2 linked regions of the Homo sapiens genome follow. The protein of the gene in region 2 purifies or fractionates together with the protein of the main gene of each other region. This does not show direct contact. Each region holds a gene or a part of one and is shown on either strand. Other genes may lie near its edges.

The links. Proteins that work in one complex are often made in the same cells at the same time.
Region 1: the proteins of PHF20 (region 2) and KAT8 purify together in Homo sapiens (affinity purification with mass spectrometry; 4 studies listed by BioGRID and IntAct, with this or other methods). This does not show direct contact.

The regions. Positions count from the first base shown.
Region 1 is NC_000016.10:31,113,285-31,120,667, forward strand, and holds the start of KAT8 (histone acetyltransferase KAT8), read left to right. Parts: upstream 1-4,379; 5' UTR 4,380-4,397; coding exon 4,398-4,608; intron 4,609-4,774; exon of another isoform or gene 4,775-5,572; intron 5,573-6,901; coding exon 6,902-6,976; intron 6,977-7,054; coding exon 7,055-7,230; intron 7,231-7,383.
Region 2 is NC_000020.11:35,775,000-35,782,020, forward strand, and holds part of PHF20 (PHD finger protein 20), read left to right. Parts: intron 1-7,021. UniProt on the Homo sapiens protein: Methyllysine-binding protein, component of the MOF histone acetyltransferase protein complex.

The DNA of each region.
Region 1 (7,383 bases), on a different chromosome or scaffold from region 2:
TCCTACCCTTCACGGGGATGGAGGGGAAGTTGTATGTGGAAGCCAAATGGCAGGGGCTAGGAAACCACAGTGACTTGCTAGACTGAAAAATCCCGCCAGCTGCAAGGCAGGGTGCTGAGGCTGGAGAGGCAGGCAGCAGTCAGAGGCCAGGGCCCTGAAACATGGGATTTATCTTGAGCCATAGGGATCCATGGGTGAGTTTTTATTTATTTAGAAATGGGGTCTTGCTCTGTTGCCCAGGCTGGAATATGGTGGCTGCAGAGTTCACTGCAGCCTTGAACTCCTGGGATCAAGAGATTCTCCCACCTCAGCCTTCTGAGTAGCTTGGACCATCATGCCAGGCTAAATTTTAAAATTTTTTGTAGAAACAGGGTTTCTACAAAGCCCTATGTTGCCCCGGGCTGGACTTGAACTTCTGGGCTCAAATGATCCTTCCACCCCAGCCTCCCAAAGTGGTGGGGTTACAGGCATGAGCCACTGCAGCTGGCCCATGAGTGGGTTTTGAGCTGGGAAGGGATGTTTCTGGTTGGAGTCCCTGAGAGGATTCATGTCCACGTGATTTCTTAAGAAAGTGCTCCCAGAACAGAGTAGGGGAAGTAGGAAGGGGAAGGGGAGGAAGCCAAGCAAGGATGTGACCTCAGGCAAAAGCCCAGAACCAGTCAATTATGCCTCAGGGTTGAAGGTAAGAGAGCTAAACCTCAGAGTTACTGATTAATTTCTCCACTTGGCAGTCACTGGTTAAAGTCAGTTGGGAAAGTGAACAGCTCTATTAACCTAAGGATGGTTTTTTAAGAAGAGCCTCAGGTGCTGGTGTGGGTCTTTGAAAGCACATCAAAGGTAATCTGGGCACACAGAAACAGCAAGAACTCCCAGAGGATCTGGGTGGAGCACCTACATTGTTTTTTTGTTTGTTTTGTTTCGTTTTGTTTTTTTAAACGGAGTCTCAATCTGTTGCTCAGGCTGGAGTGCAGTGGCTGGATCTTCGCTCACTGCAACCTCCGCCCCACCCCCCCCCAACCCCAGGTTCAAGCGATTCTCCTGCCTCAGCCTCCCGAGTAGCTGGGATTACAGGCGCGTGCCACCACACCCAGCTAATTTTTCTATTTTTAGTAGAGATGGGGTTTCACCACGTTGGCCAGGCTGGTCTCGAACTCCCAACCTCGTGATCCATCCACCTCAGCCTCCCAAAGTGCCAGGATTACAGGCATGAGCCACCATGCCTGTCGGATGTTTCTTGATTTGTAACCTCTGAGAGACCCATCCGCAGGCCCTGAGCATTCCACTCCTCTCAGAATTGTTTCCAAGCCCAATAACCACATTATAAATCAAACAAGATTCAGAGAATAGCCAAAGGGAATGTTTACTGAGTACCTACCCGGTCTGGCACTTTGCAATACACTTGTATATTGCTAAGACGGATAGTTCAACCGTTACATAGTTATATGATTGATAGTTATACATGCTTAACTGCTGGGGATTGGTTCCAGGACCGCCTGTGAATACCGAAATCTGCAGGCGCTCAAGTCCTACAGTTGGCCCTGCCAAACAGCAGATATGAAGTCAGCTCTTCAGATCTGTGGGTTCTGCATCCTTACAATATTTCCTTTCCTTTCCTTTTCTTTTCCTCCCTTCCTCCCTCTTTTTTCTTTTTCTTTTTTGAGATGGAGTCTTGTTGTGTCGGCCAGGTTGGAGTGCAGTGGCGCGATCTCGGCTCACTGCAACCTCCACCTCCTGGGTTCAAGCAGTTCTCCTGCCTCAGCCTCCCAAGTAGCTGGGATTACAGGCACACGCCACCACCCCTGACTGTTTTGTATTTTCAGTAGAGACGGGGTTTCACAATGTGGGCCAAGCTGGTTTTGAACTCCTGACCTCAAGTAATCCACCTGCTTCGGCCTCCCAAAGTGCTGGGATTACAGGTGTGAGCCACCGCGCCCAGTCTTTTTTTTTTTTTTTTTGAGGCAGAGTTTCACTCTTGTTGCCCAGGCTGGAGTGCAATGGCACAATCTCAGCTCACCACAACCTCTGCCTCCCAGGTTCAAGCGGTTCTCCTGCCTCAGCCTCCCGAGTAGCTGGGATTACAGGCATGCGGCCACCACGCCTGGCTAATTTTGTATTTTTAGTAGAGATGGGGTTTCTCCATGTTGGTCAGGCTGGTCTCGAACTCCCGACCTCAGGTGATCTGCCTGCCTCGGCCTCCCAAAGTGGTGGGATTACAGGAGTGAGCCACTGCGCCCAGCCTCCTTTTCTTTCCCCCCTTTTTTTTTGAGACAGGGTCTCTGTCACCCAAGCTGGAGTGCAGTGGAGGGATTATAGCTCACTCAGCCTCGACCTCCTGGGTTTAAGCGATCCCTCTGCCTCAGCCTCCTGAGTAGGTGGGACTACAGGTGCGGGCCCCGAGGCCCAGCTAATTTTTTTTTTCCCCCAAATTTTTAGTAGAAAGGAGGTCTCTATGCTGCCCAGGCTGGTCTTGAACTCCTGGCCTGAAGCGATCCTCCTGCTTGGATTCCTGAAGTGCGAGATTACAGGTGTGAGCCACCATACCTCAACACTGTATTTTCAACCCGCTCTTCGTTCAATCTCCAAAGGTGGGACATGCGGATATGGAGGGCCGATTGTGTATGGTTGGACCATACACATATAAATGGCTTTAACCTTTACTGACTCTCACAGAACCCTCAGTGCAGTGGCGTGATCTCAGCTCACTGCAAGCTCCACCTCCCGGGTTCACACCATTCTCCTGCCTCAGCCTCCCGAGTAGCTGGGACTACAGGGGCCCGCCACCACGCCCGGCTAATTGTTTTGTATTTTTTTTTAGTAGAGACGGAGTTTCATCGTGTTAGCCAGAATAGTCTCGATCTTCTGACCTCGTGATCCACCCGCCTAGGCCTCCCAAAGTGCTGGGATTACAGGCGTGAACCACCGCACCCGGCCTTTTTATTTTTTTTGAGATGGAGTCTGGCTCTTGGTCCCCAGGCTGGAGTGCAATGGCGGGATCTCGGCTCACTGCAACCTCCGCCTCCCGGGTTCAAGCGATTCTCCTGCCTCAGCCTCCCGAGTAGCTGGGACTACAGGTGCGTGCCACCACGCCCGGCTAAATTTTGTATTTTTAGTAGAGACGGAGTTTCACGGTGTTAGCCAGGATGGTCTCGATCTCCGCCCGCCTCGGCCTCTCAAAGTGCTGAGATTACAGGCGTGAGCCACCACGCCCCGCCCAACTCGTCCTTTCTTTAGACTTTATCCTGTGAGGGTGAATTATGGCCTGTCCCTGGACACACCCGTTCTGCTTTCCCCGCACCAACTGTATCCCAAATAGGGGAAGTAGTCTCTTCAACCTTCAAAAATGGGGCACTGGCTGGGCACGGTGGCTCACGCCTGTAACCCTAGCACTTTGGGAGGCCGAGGCGGGCGGATCACCTGAGGTCAGGAGTTCGAGACCAGCCTGGCCAACAGGGTGAAGCCCTCTCTCTACTAAAAATACAAAAAATAGCCGGGCGTGGTGGCGCGCGATTGTAATCCCAGCTATTCAGGAGGCTGAGGCAGGAGAATCGCTTGAACCCGGGAGGCGGAGGCTGCAGTGAGCCGAGATCGCGTCACTGCACTCCAGCCTGGGCGACAGAGCGAGACTCCATCTCAAAAAAAAAAAAGGGGGGGGGGCGGGGAGCGACATTAGGCCAGCGCGAGTGTGCGGCTCCAGGCCACCAGGGCGGCCGCTCTGGCTCTGCCCTGTTAAAGTGGGGGCAGCGCCCGCTGAAAATTGGCACATCTTGGCTTCCGCAGGTACCAGGGCCTTTAAAAAGGTTCAGCTGGCCGGGCACGGTGGCTCACGCCTATAATCCCAGCACTTTGGGAGGTTGAGGCTGGCAGATCACGAGGTCAAGAGATCAAGACTATCCTGGACAACATGGTGAAACCCCGTCTCTACTAAAAATACAAAAATTAGATGGGCGTGGTGGCGCGCGCCTGCAGTCCCAGCTACCCGGGAGGCTGAGGCAGAGGAATCGCTTGAACCCGGAGGCGGAGGTTGCAGTGAGCCGAGATCGCGCCTCTGCACTCCAGCCTGGGCGACAGAGCATGATTCCGTCTCAAAATAAATAAATAAATAAATAAATAAATAAATTAAAAAAAGGTTGAGTTGAGTCATCGCATGAGGTAAGTCTGTCTCCTCTCCTCACCCATAGGCTGCAGCCACAGGTCCGCACGGAAAACCAGGAGCTCCAAGACTGCCGCACACTCAACATCCAACTCGCGGGGCCGCGGGGACGGCCACAGAAGCCAATCGGCTCCTGCTACATCACAGACCCCGCCCTCAAACCTTGAGGAGCCCGCCCCACGCACTGCTGACCCGGAGCCAAAAGAACTGCGTGGCGTCCGATTCTGGCGTCACTTCCCTTCCCGCGATGGCGGCACAGGGAGCTGCTGCGGCGGTTGCGGCGGGGACTTCAGGGGTCGCGGGGGAGGGCGAGCCCGGGCCCGGGGAGAATGCGGCCGCTGAGGGGACCGCCCCATCCCCGGGCCGCGTCTCTCCGCCGACCCCGGCGCGCGGCGAGCCGGAAGTCACGGTGGAGATCGGAGAAACGTACCTGTGCCGGCGACCGGATAGCACCTGGCGTGAGGGCGGGGCCCAGGGCTGGGGGCGGGGCGGAGCTCAGGGCCAGGGGGTGGGGCGGGGCCTGAGGACAGGCTGTCAGTGAGGCCAAGATCCGGGGGCTGGGAGTGGAGAGGAGGAGGGGCGGGGCTTGAGGAAAGAACGCCGCGTTCCGGGCGCTGAGAAACCAGCCGGGTTGTGGGAGGCTGTTGACCTTGAATTATGCCGAGCGACGCCTACAAACCCACCGCTCAGGCCTTCACCAGGATTGTTCCCATTCCACTTCCTTGCCCAGTCTTAGGCTTCATTCCTTTTTCTTGCTAACGCTGCTTCCTCACCCTCTCTTGTCTCTGCGTCTTCTTTTTCCATTTGTCCCTGGCAGCCATCCGCAGAGAGAAGACCTTCCAGAAACAACAGGCTTCCCTTTCCTAAAGTTCTGCTGCCTTCTCTCATTTTCAAAATTAACCCCAAACTCCTTAGGGTGGCATTCATTTTTGTGACCTCTCCAGTTTCTAGCCAACACTAGGAAAGGGCATTGCCAGGCCAGAACACACTGTGCCCTCTGAAGACCACACGCCCTTTACCACCTGTGCCCTTTGCTTGGAATGCTTTTTCTTCCCTTTCTCCTTGTTTGCCTGCCTAGCTCCTACTCATCCTCTTAGCTTCATATCCTTTGTGATGTCATCCTTGATTCCCCTTCAGGCAAAGTGAGTGGTTCCCTTCTCTATGTTCCTGCAACATTTTTTTCCTACCTCAGTCATAGTTTTTGTAACATTATGTTGTAATTTTCTCTCTCTGTCTTCCTCCATCATACTGGGAACTTCTGGAGGGCAGCACTTCTTGTGATTCATCACTGTGTCCTCTGTACCCGGCAACAACACAGCATAGGGCCAGACACGTAGTGGTTGCCTTACTCATTTATTGAATGCTCTGCTAATTGTCAGGTGCGCTGCTAAAAATTTTGGAGGCATTAATTCACCTTCTAAGGTTGGTACTATTATCCCTTTTGTCTTTTTTTTTTTTTTTTTTTTTGAGACAGGATCTCGCTCTGTCACCCAGGTGGGATTGCCGTGGCACGATGACAGCTCACTGAAGCCTAGACCTTCTAGGCTCAAGTGATCCTCCCACCTCACCCTCTCAGAGTGTTGGGATTACTGGCATGAGCCACTGTGCCCAGCTGTTATCCCTTTTCACAGATGAAGAGACTGAGGCTCAGAAAGATGGAATAACTTGCTCAGTTACACATAGCTAGGAAGTAGGGAGCTGGAATTTTGTGTATTTTTTTTTGTTTGTTTGTTTGAGATGGAATCGCTCTCTGTTGCCAGGCTGGAGTGCAGTGGCGCCATCTTGGCTCACTGCGATCTCTGCCTCCCGGATTCAAGCGATTCTCCTGCCTCAACCTCCTGAGTAGCTGGGACTACAGTTGTGCGCCACCACACCCAGCTAATTTTTGTATTTTTAGTAGAGACGAAGTTTCACCATGTTGGCCAGGATGGTTTTGACCTCTTAACCTCGTGATTCACCCACCTCGGCCTCCCAAAGTGCTGGGATTACAGGCGTGAGCCACGATGCCCAGCCCTGGAATTATACATTAATGTAGGTTATCTTAATCCAGAGCCAGCACTCATGATCCCTGAACAAATGAACAACTGCGGGTATGTGGTAAAATGAGCATTGAATTTAGAGTCAGACTTAAATTCAGTTAAGTATTAGCTCTTACCACTTTTCAAATCTGTGACCCTAGGTAAGCCTCAGTTTTGTTCTGTTTTTTGGGGTTCTTTTTTTTGAGACAGAGTCTTGCTCTTGTCACCCAGGCCACAGTGCAGTGGTACAATCTCGGCTCACTGCAACCTCTGCCTCCCGGGTTCAAGCAATTCTCCTGCCTCAGCCTTGCCTCCCAGGTTCAAGCAATTTTCCTGCCTCAGCCTCCCGAGTAGTTGGGATTACAGGTGTGTGCCACCATGCCTGGCTTTTTTTTTTTTCGTCTTTTTGGTACAGATGGGGTTTTGCCATGTTGACCAGGCTGGTCTCAAACTCCTGGCCTCAAGTGATCTGCCCATCTCGGCCTCCAGAAGTACTGGGATTACAGGTGTGAGCCACACACCCAGCCAGTTATTTTCTCATTCGTAAAATGAGAATAACAGCCTCAACCTGATCCACCTCACAGTTGTGGCAGTGATTGAGTAGAATGGCAGAGGTGGACCAGTGAGGTTAGCTGATGTGTGGCCCTGAACTCTGGAAACTGCTTCTCAGTGTGCAGGATTCCTTTTGTTCCAGCCTTACCTTCCTGATGACCCTAGCCTTTTTCCATCACAGATTCTGCTGAAGTGATCCAGTCTCGAGTGAACGACCAGGAGGGCCGAGAGGAATTCTATGTACACTACGTGGGCTGTGAGTGGCTTGGCACATCTGGGCGTGGGTGCAGGGAGTTGGCTGCCCTGGCAGCACTCTTATGGCCCATACTTACAGTTAACCGGCGGCTGGACGAGTGGGTAGACAAGAACCGGCTGGCGCTGACCAAGACAGTGAAGGATGCTGTACAGAAGAACTCAGAGAAGTACCTGAGCGAGCTCGCAGAGCAGCCTGAGCGCAAGATCACTCGCAACCAAAAGCGCAAGCATGATGAGATCAACCATGTGCAGAAGGTCCGGATCCCTTCCCATCCACGGGCCCAGGAGGCCCAGCTTCTCTGCCAGTTCCCTTGGGTCTCTCGGGCCCCAGTGCCAAAACCATAGCAAATCCCATTTCTTAAGCTCCTGTAGTGTGTCAGGGACTTTACCTACTTCCTCTTACTTACT
Region 2 (7,021 bases):
AAAATCACTGGAGGTCTGTCTGAGCAGTACCTAATAAAATATAGTATACTGAAAGTGAACAGATACTTTGTCTCTTTCTTTGGCTGCTTGATACTTTATCTGTGTACTGCCGTACAGTGCACCCTTAAAGTATTCTACACCAGTGCTTCTCAAACTTGAATGTGCATGTAAGTCACCCAGGGGTCTTGTTGAAATGCTGATTCTGATTTGGTAGATCTAGGATGGGACCTGAATGCATTTCTGATTTGCAGGTGATGCTGATGTTACTGAACTACACTTTTAGTAGTGAGGTTTCATACACGAAGACAAAGTTTCTCTGTGAAAATAGGAAGGTGGTGGTTAGCCTTATATTTTTTTATTTTATCTTTATCCAGACACACATCCCTTAAAAGTTTGTACAAGGCCATAGTCCCCTTTATTAGTTATACTCAATTAGTTATTCTAGCACATAGCTTTTTAAATATTGGCCAAAACTGGCTGGGCACGGTGGCTCATGCTTGTAATCCCAGCACTTTGGGAGCTGAGGCGGGCAGATCACGAGGTCAGGAGTTCGAGACCAGTCTGGCTAACACAGTGAAACCCTGTCTCTACTAAAAATAGAAAAATTACCTGGGTGTGGTGGCAGGCACCTGTAATCCCAGCTACATGGGAGGCTGAGGCAGAATACTTGCTTGAACCCGGGAGGCGGAGGTTGCAGTGAGCCAAAATTGCACCACTGCACTCCAGCCTGGGCCACAGAGTGAGACTCTGTCTCCAAAAAAAAAAAAAAAAAAAAGGCCAAAACTTCTCCAGGAGTTTGGTTTCTGTGTGTATATATATATATTTTGGGTGGGGACAGGGTCTCATTCTGTCACCCAAGCTGGAGTGCAGTGGTGTGATCACGGCTTACTGCAGCCTCAACCTTCTGGGCTCAAGCGATCCTCCCCTCAGCCTCTTGAGTTTCAGGGACCACTGGCACGTGCCACCACACCTGGCTAATTTTAAATTTTTTGTAGAGATGAGATCTTGCCATTTTGCCCAGGTTGGTCTTGAACTTCTGGGCTCAAGCAGTCCTCCACCTTAGCTTCCCAAAGTGTTGGGATTATAGGTGTGAGCTGCCATGCCTGGCTATTGCCAAATTTAAATGGTTACATATTTCTTACTTGAATGTGAACATAATTATTGATATAGAATCATTCTAATAAATACTGCATAGCCAGCTTGTCTGTCTGGTTCCTCATCCTACCATGAGTAGGGAGTCTGTGATACCCCAAATCAGTGGGTCACAGGTGTTGGAATTTCCAAAGAGTCCTTCTTGGTTTTCTGGGTTCTGGAAATGGGCCAGGAAAAGCCAGGATAAAGCTATGTTCCCCGACCTCGAATGGAAGCTTCTGGCTTTCTCTAAATGGGTGCTCCAGAAAGACAAATGCTGGGGAGAAGATGATATTCTTTGATGGTGATCATGCTTTATGATGATCTTTCTCCTTTTGTACCCACATGTCTAATCTATTCTAAGTCTCAAGTGGGTTTTTCCTTTTTTCAAAAAATTTTTTTGGAGACAAAGACTACCTCTGAAAGTGTTTTTCCTTTCTAAGTGTGTTGGATCATCTGTACCTATTTCCCTGGCTGTCACCTGTCTGGCCCTCTTCCACGTGATCCTGTTGCCAGCCCTAATCAGGACAAACCTGAATGACTAGACTATTTTGTGTCCCTGTCCTCCTCCAACCCCTATTCCTCACATGAGTGTCAGATCCTATTCAGTAACGGATTTGATCTGGATTTGGCTCTAGTCCTAGCTCTTCCATTTACTGTGAGACCTCAGGCAAGTCACTTAATGCTATGGGCCTGCTTCTCCCCATTTGTAAAATGAGGGGCTGATGATCTGCAATGTCCACCCTGGCTGAATCTTGGTCGCTACCTTGCTTAGAAACCCCATTGCCTGTGGTAGCTTGTTGCAGCAGATCTGATTTCTTTCATGTGCTCCCTTGGGCAGCCTGCCAGTTATTCCCTTGTCCAAGTCACTTCTGCCATTATCTTTTTTTCTAGCTGAGGCAGCCAGCTTGTTCTCAACCCAACTTCAGCGTTCTTCTTGCTTCCATGTCTTCTTCCAGTTCCATGCTGTATTTCATTCAGAACTACCTGAAATCCTCAAAGAAGTCTTCCTGAGTTCTCCATTCAATGTTTGTGACTTCTCTGCCTTACCAAGAAGGAGTCTGTACCTTATATACCCCGTATTTACTTGTCAGTTCTCTTATCTAATGTATACTTAAAAAGGGACTTCATTTCCTCCATACCACAGCTTTGTTTTTTGGTTTGAATTAGCAGGGCAGGTGGCATGAAATTTAAAGAGGAAGCAAGCAGGTTGTTTGCCTTTGGCTGGGATTTGGGGAAAGTATGAGATGTAATGTTTTTAGTCCCCTTCCCCAAGATCTCCTGTATCTGTGGGAATCAGTTGCCTGGTATGTCTTCCTGGATTGTAAAGGTGCTTAAACTTCCTTTCTGAAGTTTGAAAGTGTATCCTAAGTGCAAATACCATTTGACAATTACTCGTGGTTGGGTGGGTGCAGTGGCTTACGCCTGTAATCCCAACACTTTGGGAGGCCAGAGTGGGAGGATTGCTTGAAGCCAGGAGTTCAAGACCAGCCTGGGCAACAAAGTGAGATTCCTGTCTCTACTCCCCCACCAAAAACAAAAAAGTAGTCAGGCATGGTGGTGCGTGCTTGTAGTCCCAGCTCCTTGGGAGGCTGACGAGGGAGTTCAGAGTCTGCAGTGAGCTAGGATTGTACCACTGCACTACAGCTGGGTGACAGCACGAGACCCCATTGCTTCCAAGTGCTCTTCTAGGAACACACAGCCACAAAACCCAGAACAAGGAATTGTTAAGGATAATGATAAGAAATCTGTATTTCAAATAACTTAACAAATGAATAAAACCAACAGTTCTTTGAGAGCACCTGATTATTGTCAAAGACAGTTGCTGAGGGGGCTTGGAAGTCAGGACTTAAAGGTATATTTAACCTCTGGAGTTTTCTTCTTTCATCATCTTCCTAAGAAATAATAGGGAGGATGTTTACATTTTTCTTGATAAAGTCTTTTTATTAATTTTATTTATTTATTTATTTTGAGAAAGGGTCTTGCTCTGTTGCCTAGGCTGGAGTGTAGTGGCGCAGTCTTGGCTTACTGCAACCTGTGCATCCTGAATTCAAGCGATTCTTGTGCCTCAGCCTCCTGAGTAGCTGGGATTATAGGTGCGCACCACCATGCCCAACTAATTTTTTGTAGTTTTAGTAGAGACAAGGTTTCACTATGTTGGTTAAGCTGGGACATTTTTCTTGATAAACATTCTTTAAACCAAAATGTATGCTTAGTCAAGATCCTTGATTGGATTATGAGCCTAGAGAAAAGGAGGGTGATGTCTTTGTCTAATCCATCTTTGCCAGTGACTGCCCCTTACAGGCTATTGACTATAGGGTAACCTAATGAAAATTGAGACAGGCACTGTGGCTCACGCCTGTAATCCCAGCACTTTGGGAGGCCAAGTCGGATGGATCACCTGAAGTCAGGAGTTCAAGACCAGCCTGGCTAACACACAGTGAAACTCCGTCTCTACTAAAAATACAAAAAATTAGTCAGGCGTGGTGGCAGGTGCCTGTCATCCCAGCTACTAGGGAGGCTGAGGCAGGAGAATGGCTTGAACCCGAGAGGCAGAGGTTGCAGTGAGCCGAGATTACACCACTGCGCTTCAGCCTGGGCAACAAGAGTGAAACTGTGTCTCAAAAAAAAAAAAAAAAAATTGAACCCTTAATTTGTAATAATGCTTTGACAACTTTGCTAGATCTTGGGCTAGGTCCTACCTGGACCTTCCTCTCTTTTGCCAAATAATGGAACTAATGAGCTGGCAGAAATCCTGTACAATTTTAGAAGCCTAATATGAGTGACTAAATGTAAATAGGACAGTTTTAGGAAAGAGTGGTGGAGCCTGAATCAGTGAACTTTGGGGAAGGAGCAAGAGGAGGGGCTTGGGATTTAAACAAAGGGTTTTTTTTTGTTTTGTTTTGTTTTTTGTTTTTTTTTTGAGGTGGAGTCTCACTTCGTTGCCCAGGCTAGAGTACAATGGTGCAATCTCGGCTCACTGCAACCTCTGCCTCCCGGATTCAAGTGATTCTCCTGCTTCAGCCTCCCAAGTAGCTGGTACTACAGGTGTGTGCCACCTCACCCTGCTAATCTTTTATATTTTTGGTAGAGACTGGCTTTCATCATATTGGCCAGGCTGGTCTCGAACTCCTGACCTCATGATCCGCCTGCCAGGGCCTCCCAAAGTGCTAGGTTTACAGGTGTGAGCCACTGCGCCTGGCCTAAACCAAGGTTTTTATTCAGTGATAGTTTATTCCATGTCAGGAACATAATTCTCAGATTTTAAAGGCTGACTTCCAGGTATCTTAGAAGGATATTTGGGGGTCTCTGTCCTAGTAGAGACCTGATTTTCAAGAGGTCTCTTTCTCATATGGAAAAAGTCCATAGCTGGTGGATTGACATTCCTTTCTTTCTTTTTTTTTTTTTGTTGAGGCGGAGTCTCACTCTGTCGCCCAGAAGTGCAGTGGTGCAACCTCGGCACACTGCAACCTCTGTCTCCTGGGTTCAAGCAATTCTCCTGCCTCAGCCTCCTGAGTAGCTGGGATTACAGGTGCCCGCCACCATGCCTGGGTAATTTTTTGTATTTTTAGTAGAGATGGAGTTTCACCATGTTCGCCAGGCTAGTCTTGAACTCCTGACCTCAAGTGATCCACCCGCCTCGGCCTCCCAAACTGCTGGGATTACAGGCGTGAGCCACTGTGCCCGGCCAATGCCTTTCTTGCTTCTACAGGTGCACAGGTGTTGGGATTTCGAGGTTGTGGAAACTTGGTCTGGAAATGTGGGCATTTTACAATAATGATAACTATAGCTAGCATTTTTGGAGCACTGTCTTAAATGTCATTGAATCCTTACATCTGACCTATTATCCTGTCCTAACAGAGGAGGAAACTGAGATGAGTAATTTGTCCAAGGTCATTTGGCTAATAAGCAGGGCCTCGATTGGAGTCCAGGTTTCTTTGCCTCCTGTCCCAGTGCTCTTACATCCCTCTCTCTCTAGCTAACGTGCTTTTTCCCCTAGAAATTTGAGTAAGTCATTTTAACTACAAATCAAACAGGTGGCAGCCTGGAAACCAGCACTGAGGCACTTTGCCACCCTCACCCCAGATTTCTTTTTTTTTTTTTTTTTTTTTTGGGACGGAGTCTCACATTGTTGCCCAGGCTGGAGTGCAGTGGCACAATCTCAGCTCACTGCAAGCTCCGCCTCCCGGGTTTACGCCATTCTCCTGCCTCAGCCTCCTGAGTAGCTGGGACTACAGATGCCCTCCACGATGCCCGGCTAATTTTTTGTATTTTTAGTAGAGACAGGGGTTTCGCCATGTTAGCCAGGATGGTCTCGATCTGCTGACCTCATAATCCATCCGCCTCGGCCTCCCAAAGTGCTAGGATTACAGGCATGAGCCACCATGCCTGGCTCATTCTTTTTTCTTTTTTTTCTTTTCTTTTTTTTTTTTTGAGACAGAGTCTGACTCTGTCTCCCAGGCTGGAAGGCAGTGGCATGATCTTGGCTCACTGCAGCCTCCGCCTCCCGGGTTCAAGTGATTCTCCTGCCTCAGCCTCCTGAGTACCTGGGATTACAGGCGAACACCACCACACCCGGCTAATCTTTTATATTTTTAGTAGAGACGGGGTTTCACCATGTTGCCCAGGCTGGTCTTGAACTCCTGATCTCAGATGATCCACCAGCCTTGGCCTCCCAAAGTGCTGGGATTACAGACATGAGCCACTGGTGCCTGGCCCTTTTTTTTTTTTTTTTTTTTTTGAGATGGAGTTTCACCTTGTAGCCCAGGCTGGAGTGCAATGGCACGATCTTGGCTCACTGCAACCTCCGCCTCCCGAGTTCAAGTGATTCTCTTACCTCAGCCTCCCAAGTAGCTGGGATTACAGGCATGTGCCAACACGCCTGGCTAATTTTCTGTTGTTAGTAGAGATGGAGTTTTACCATGTTGGTCAGTCTGGTCTCGAACCCCTGACCTCAGGTGCTCCACCCACCTCGGCCTAAAGTGCTGGGATTACAGGCGTGAGCAAGATTTTATTCTTTTTTTTTTTTCTGAGATGGATTCTTGCTCTGTCACCCAGGCTGAAGTGCAGTGACACGATCTTGGCTCACTGCAACCTCCTTCTCTGGGGTTCAAGTGATTCTCATGCCTCAGCCTCCTGAGTAGCTGGGATTATAGGCCTGCACCACCACATCCGGCTAATTTTCATATTTTTGATAGAGACGGGTTTCACCGTATTAGCCAGGTTGGTCTCCGCCCGCCTCAGCCTCCCAAAGTGCTGGGATTACAGGCGTGAGCCACTGTGCCTGGCCTTCATTCTTGACCATGCAAAACATCCTTTAATTGTAGAAGCCCAGTTCTCCCAACTCAAGCTGCCTTTCTACATTTTTCTTTCTTCTTCAATTTTTGTTGTTGTTGTTGTCGTGGTCAGATACACATAATATAAAATTTGCCATTTTAACCATTTTTAAGTTATATAGCTTACTGGTATTAAATAATGTTGTGCAACCATCACCACTCTCCATCTCCGTAACTCCTCAAAATTGAAACTCTGGGCCGGGTCCAGTGGCTCATGCCTGTAATCCCAGCACTTCGGGAGGCTGAGGCAGGTAGATCACTTGAGGTCAGGAGTTCGAGGCCAGCCTGGCCATCATGGCAAAACCCCATCTCTACTAAAAATACAAAAATTAGCTGGGCGTGGTAGCACATGCCTGTGATCCCAGCCACTAGGGAGCCTGAAGCAGGAGAACTGTTTGAACGCGGGGGCGGGTGGAGGTTGCACTGAGCCAGGATTGCTGCACTGCACTCCAGCCTAGGTGACAGAGCGAGACTCCATCTCAAAAAAAAAAAAAATTATAACTCTGTACCCATTAAACACTGACTCCCTCTTTCATGAACCTCCTCCCAGCCCC